Linked DNA regions of Homo sapiens. The protein of the gene in region 1 interacts with the protein of each later gene in a biochemical or structural test. Each region holds a gene or a part of one and is shown on either strand. Other genes may lie near its edges.

Region 1 (3,500 bases):
ATCCTGCCTCTGCCACTTGCTACACAGGATGGCCTCAAGGCAGTAGCTAAATGATTTGTGGATTCACTGATTTTCAACCTTCTCTCCTGCTTTCCCCTGAAGTCACCTGACGGCTAATTAGCAGCTACTTTCTCCTTCCCACTCCCCAGGCCCAGAAGCTACCAAAGGAGCTCTGGTCGCAGGACCAACAGCAATTTTCCCCACAGGAAAAACGAATCAGCTAAGACAACCATGGAAAAGTTAGGAAACAGCCAGAGAGAGATTTTAAGGAAGATTCTAGAACCACCGCTTGCTCTTAATATAAAAGGACTGGAAGAGATTTGAGGAATACTCTGGTGCCAAGGCTTCTTCCTTTTTGGCCAATAACTTTTATTTCTTACTCTTGTATTGAAAGTTTTTTCCCCTCTACCTACTGCATTAAAAAAAAATTTTTTTTTTTCTAAGACAAGGTCTCACTCTGTCTCCCAGGCTGGAGTGCAGTGGTGCAATCACGCTCATAGCCTCAACCTCCCGGGCTCCAGTGGGCCTCCCACCTCAGCCTCCCTAATAGCTGGGATTACACATGTGTGCCACCACACCAGCTAATTTTTTTTTTTTGAGACGGAGTCTCACTCTGTCATCAGGCTGGAGTGCAGTGGCGTGATCTCAGCTCATCGCAACCTCTGCCTCCCGGGTTCAAGCTATTCTCCTGCCTCAGCCTCCCAAGTAGCTGGGACTACAGGCGCGTGCCACCACACCCAGCTAACTTTTGTATTTTTAGTAGAGACGGGGTTTCGCCATGTTGGCCAGGATGGTATGAATCTCTCGACCTTGAGATCCGCCCACCTCGGTCTCCCAAGGTGCTGGGATTACAGGCGTGAGCCACCATGCCCGGCCTAGGAGTTTCTTTTTAGCGTGATGAAAATGTTCTAAAATTGACTGTGGTGATGGCTGCACAACTCTGTCAACGTACTAAAGCCACTAAGTTGGACACTGATAAATGGATATGGATTATACAGTATCTCAATAAAGCCACTCAACCAACCAACCGACCAACCAACCAACCAGGGGGTGCTGGGAAGGGGTTGAGAGGCCTCCATGAGGCTGTGGAGGCGGATAGGCGTCAGGCTCAGAGCTGACTTTACCCCGAGGGCAACGGCTCGGGCAGAGTTTCTAAGGGCAGGCCCATGCCTTCCTTGGGGTGGCCGGTAATGCTGGTTGAGAACAGGCTGGGGAAGAGCCTAGAGCTGAAACGCTCTGGTTGGCGGTGCAGGCACAGGACATCAAGGCCTGGAGAGGGACTGAGGCATCAGGGCTGAGGGACTCTGAGAGCAGCGGACAGGCGTGTGTGGCGGGGGAGGAACGGCGCACACCTGTGCCCCATCCGCAGCCCCTCTTCTTGTCAACATCAGCTTCCCCGGGGAGAGGCAGTGATGTTGGTGGGGGAAGGAGGGAAGGGCCCAGGCCGGGCTGTGGTGGAGACGGTTGCTATGGAGGTTTCTCTGGGAACCAGGTGAAGGCAGCCAGAAGATGGGGGCAGGGTGGCTTTCATTATGAGAACTGGAAGCAAACACAGCCCCTTCCTGCCTCGGCGGACATCTCCACACCCACATTTCATGGCATTTCTCACGCGCTGGGCTGTTTCCAGGGCTTCACCTGTTCTCACTCACTTAACTTTCCCCCAGCAATGTGACGAAGCGAAACTATCATGGCTCCCATTTATAAATGAGCAAACTGAGAAAGGGGAGAGGACTTCAGTCACCTGCGTAAAGTCCCACAACCAGTAAGGGCTGGCCCAGGTGTCTGGCCCCACAGCTGAGCTCCTAACCGCACCGAGCCTCTCCAAAACATGGTCTTTTTTTGCTCCCCACTGCCACCACCATCACCGTCCCCTGCCTCATCCAGTCCCCCTTCCCATTCTCCAGAGACTTCCTGGGCCATCTCCATGACCTTCCAGACCAGCCTGGGCTTCACTCTCAAATCCAATTCAGGATGATCCGCCCGCCCCAGCTGCAGACGATGGCCTGAGACGCCTGCAGGGAAGAGAGGGGCGTCCGCTGCTCGCCAACCCCCATACGTTCCTGCTCTGTGGTAGGTCAGGAAGAAGAGGGCAAAGGAGTCTGCATCAAACTGGGCTAAGGCCTGGCGCTCTGATGGCCGCTGACCTCAAAACTCTCCATGGGGGGTACCCCTCTGCCCATTGAGGGGGCACCTAGGGAGCCTAGGGGTCCCGTGAGGCCCTCCCACCATGGTTCCCCGCCTCTGCCTCTCCCCGCAGCTCCGACCATGACCATCCATCCTATGAGTGCTGGCTGGGCTCAAGCCCGGGTACTTTCCTCCGTGCCCAAGCAACCCTGTAGGAACCACATATCCTGGGCCAGACGAATGCAGGAGCTGCCTCCTCTGGACACAGCGGTGGCTCTCACCTCCCTTCCATCTTGGCAGGATGAGTGCATTTGCTGCGAGAAAGCAGCCCCGACGGCAGGGCCCTAGGGCCCCAGGCCAGGCCACCACGACCACGAGGGACCAAGACAACAAGCCCACTCCTGAATCACGCCTCAACACAGACAACATGATGTCCAAACCACAGAAACGACCAAACACCCCTCCTGACTCAGAGCTGCTGGCTGTTTCTCAACTAACCCCGGCGGCACTAGCTCCCTTTGCTTCTCAGGCTCTAGGTCAAATAGATGCGAGTCATGGGCTTGCCCCTGACACAGCCCAACTCCTCAAGTTAGCCCAAACGCCTCCTTATTGAGGTGCCCTGCGAGTCCCTGTGGGGGACAGTCTTCCTGCCGCAATGAGCAATGTGCTCCTGGTGGCCTCTGGCTGGGGGCATGGGGATTAGGAAGAGAGTAATAAGACACCAGCCCCACTTCCAGCAGGCATCCTGAACCTCAGGAAGGATTCTTTAGGCCTCCTCCTCTGCTCCCCAGAAACACTGTCCTCCCCTCCTTCACATGGGACCGGGCTGTGTCGGAATGAAGCCCTACTCCGTCTCACTGCTTGTAAAGTCCAGCACAGAGGGGACCAGCCTCAATCCTCGGAGACTCTTGGAATGAGGGCTGGGTTCCTTTTGCTCTCTGCTGTGGACAGAGAGGATGACAGCTGTGGGGAGGGGAAGTCACAGAGGGCCAGCAGCCTGAGTCCTGTCCACACTGGTGGTTTGCTGGGGTTTTCCAGGTTTTTCTGAATTACTTGCCTACCTTTAAAACTTGGATCTCACAGAAAAAAAAAAAACTGGATTTCCAGCTTCTCCCGTGAAACCAGCAGCTTTGCACCACCAGCGCTGCCAGTGTTGCTGCGGCCCCGGTGCCTTTCAGGGGCCCAGGTGCTTCTGGGAGCCACCCCTCCCTCTGGGCCTGACACAGGGCCCAAGGTGGTCAGCAGTTCACCGGTCCAGGCCTCTTCCCATGTCAACCCCCTGCCCCTCCACACTGCCCCAAGGTAGTTCTATGATTGTGCCCATTTTACTGATGAGGTGACCACAGGTCGGGGGGTACAGTATCTTGTCCCAGACC
Region 2 (3,387 bases), on another chromosome or scaffold:
ACCTGACCCATGAGCAGTTGTAAAACAGGTGGATACCAACTACCTCGAAGCAAATTGGTGAAAGAAAAGGCAAAGGTATCTCTTAGAAGTAAATCTCCTTCAACGTTATATATGTACAGAAGAAAAAAAGTTGATCATAGCTTTTTGTCAAGTAGCATGTTTCCCATTCACAGGAAAATGTGAGCTTATCAGTTCTTTCTCTGTATTTTAAATCTAAGTCTGTGGGCTTTAAGAGCAATGGCACAATTGCATGTTTACTGTTCAGCAAATCTGTGCCTCTTGATAGAGAAAAATACTATGTGGTTTCTGTAAGTTACCAGTTTTGAATGAAAAATGGTAAATGGATTTACATCTGTTTTATTGTACCTTAGCCTTTTATTTTAAAGTTAAAGGGATGACTTTTAAAAGCAGGACATTCCCTACCTTTAATAGTGCAAAGCACAGTTTCAGCAATGGCTACATGACTATGTCTAAAAACTGAATACTCAGAATACTAAAGGTTTGGTGCTTAAATTTATTTTTCCCATGCCAGAGAAAGCAAGCTTTGGTATGGTAAACCACATGAGAACATGGCTCCTTTCTTTTTGGATAGCCTGGCCATGTGTGAATGGGATTTTAGCTTATTATGTTTCTAAGACTTTTCCTTACAGCACACTTAATGTACCTTTTCAGTCCTTCTCCCAACCCCCTGCAAATTGTCTTTAAAACAACAACACATAAGGAATCTGAAGCACAGGAGAACACAGAGCCAACAAACAGAATGAAGAACAATCATCTATTTTTAACTGACTTTCTATCATTACCATTTTTCCTTTTGCTTAATAACTATCTTGCTTTGAAACTTTGACTCCTTTTATAAGTTCTATGAGGCACATATGTATAGCAATTTGGTTCTAAAAACCAGTGATCTTACTTTAGCTCCATCTTAAAATTTCACCTTAAGTAAATGGCCTCTAGTAGATGATAAGCCTAAAAAAAGCACAATTATTAAAACAAACAGATCCATGTTAGGACATTTCTGAATAATAAAGAGAAAAGGTGTTTCGTTGGGTATTGCAGAAAAGAGGACCAATTTCATATAGTACAAGTTTCGTAAGTCAGGCCAAGTGTCAATTTCAAAAGACAAGAAATGAAATTGACAGTGAATAGTGCTCATAAATTGGTAGCGTATATAAAGAGAAGTTCCTGTCACATTATATTCCCACTAGAATTATTATCCACAGTAAATAAATATTATTTTGTTATGCCAAAAATATAGCGAGCAGCTTCATGGTTAATAATACATTTATGTTGACACCTCCCTAATCCAGGAAACATTCACAAACAAGGACTCCCATATACAAATACTTTAGGAAGAGAGATTTCCCAGGCAGATATCACCAAAAATGTTTTCACTGTAGGAATCACAAAATAAGTTTTTGTCAAAATAACTGTTGTTGAACGTTATACTGGTCTTCCTCACTGGTGATTGATAAGCTCCTTTCTAGCCAGTTTGTGGTACTTCCTTCATTTTCCCTAGAAATGTTACTTGTTAAATGTGTCCTCAGGCGGTTTCATCTTTGTTGATTCTGCCCATCTAAGTCATAAGCTTCTCAAATGCAAGCTACTAGCTAGTTACACTTGTAAGTTTTCCATAATGACATGATTTTAAACATAAAGAGTTCATAAGAATCACTTGGAGAGACTATTTAAAAATGAGATTCCTAGGCCCACCTCAGATTGTGATAAATCTGTGTGACTGACTGATGCACACTTTTTCTGGACTATAATAACTGATGCTGCTCTACTGCTTTAATACAGGCCAAAGTAACGTGGAAGCGCACAGCAGAAAATCTTCAGAAAGACATCAGGTTTGTTCTGATTTTGACAAGGGTAACTTCTTCTTTATTAAAGCAAATAACTGGACATAATCTTAAAGGATTCCACCTCCATCGTCTTTCCTAACTTAGATCTTCATTGAGAAATTGGGCAAGGTTAAGTTTACTTTTTTCTAGTGCTGCGGTTTTGGCTCGTCTTGGTAGTCTCATCTTCATTTCTGATTCTGGTTCTGGAACTTCATGATCACTAAATAGATGTTGAAAATACACGAATTTAGATACAAGCTTTAAAACCAGTTTATTTATAAATAAAACTTTTTTGTTTCTGACTCACATTCTATCAGTGTTTAATTGATAGCCTGATTCCATTGACTTAGCTTAAAACTAAAATCTCAATGTCAAAAAAACACTGACTTGGCTATCTAGCAAAGTGAATCAGGGAAAATCTAGCTAATGATTTTATATACTATAACAGAACCTGGTGTTATACAGGAAAAAAAGCCACAAACTTGTAATGAAGCTTGTAATTAAACGAGGACCATAACTGTCCAAAAGAGATTTCTTTGAAACTCAAGAAGTGACAAAAAAATTAAGTTCTCTCTCTTGATTTAAGCAATAAATTCCAAAAACATAGTAAAAAACAAGTTTCCCCCCAAAAAAGACAAATTTAATCAACAGTGTAAAACTATGTACTGAAAATACACACAATACAATTTTGCAAATGAATACAAGACAGCTACCAACTTTCAGCTCTAACAGTGGCTTGACTGACAGAAGCCAAAAATAAAACACTCTACCACACAATATACCCAAATTATAGACAGAATTATTCTATCAGTATGTAAGTGTAGAGAACCCAAATATTATCAAAATCAAGAGTTTGCTAACTGAAGATCAAAGAGGAGTCACATCATGTAATTAAAAATTGAAACAACATATTAAAGATAGTACTAAAGACCATGCCAGCTAATAGGCAAAAGCAAACACGCCGTAAGAAGTCAAATGCTCTTGATGATGGAATTTTAGACTATATACCTAAGACAGCTATTTATAGTTTTCACTATCTTGTTATATATTCTCTCTCATTCGCAAGAAAATTAGTTTTTTTCTACTTGTAGAAATAAAAAGTGAAGATAGGCCTCCATATATTCTAGACATGCATGACATACCTTTCAGAGTCGGCTTCAGCAGTCTGACACCTCCTGTTCGTCCTAGCTGAAACTGTCACTTTTCTCTGTCCTTGAAGATAGTATAATTCATTATCAGGATTTATTATCAGTTGCTTTTTGTTTTTAATCTAGTTTCTAGGCTAACTAAATCCTTTGTCTTCAACACAACAATCCTTTCAACACATGTATCTCCTACTTGTTCTAGCCATCTTGGTACCAGTTATCACTGCCACAGAAAAAGGAACCCAAGCAAGATTAAAACTTAATTTATTTTGTAAGCACTAATAATGAGTAAGGGAAAATAAGGAAATTTCAAGCAAGTTAAAAGAAGGCAAATTTTAGTTCAATGTATTTGAGGACAGTATATGAAAAATGTGTTATAATGAAGTACCTCTATTATT

Evidence for each region.
Region 2: the proteins of NUP62 (region 1) and NCAPG form a complex in vitro, tested with the Homo sapiens proteins (one study listed by IntAct).

What each region holds. Positions count from the first base shown.
Region 1 is NC_000019.10:49,919,505-49,923,004, forward strand, and holds part of NUP62 (nuclear pore glycoprotein p62), read right to left. Parts: intron 1-3,500. UniProt on the Homo sapiens protein: Essential component of the nuclear pore complex. The N-terminal is probably involved in nucleocytoplasmic transport.
Region 2 is NC_000004.12:17,841,979-17,845,365, reverse strand, and holds the end of NCAPG (condensin complex subunit 3), read right to left. Parts: exon of another isoform or gene 3,057-3,387; coding exon 2,987-3,056; exon of another isoform or gene 2,065-2,986; coding exon 1,941-2,064; 3' UTR 501-1,940; downstream 1-500. UniProt on the Homo sapiens protein: Regulatory subunit of the condensin complex, a complex required for conversion of interphase chromatin into mitotic-like condense chromosomes.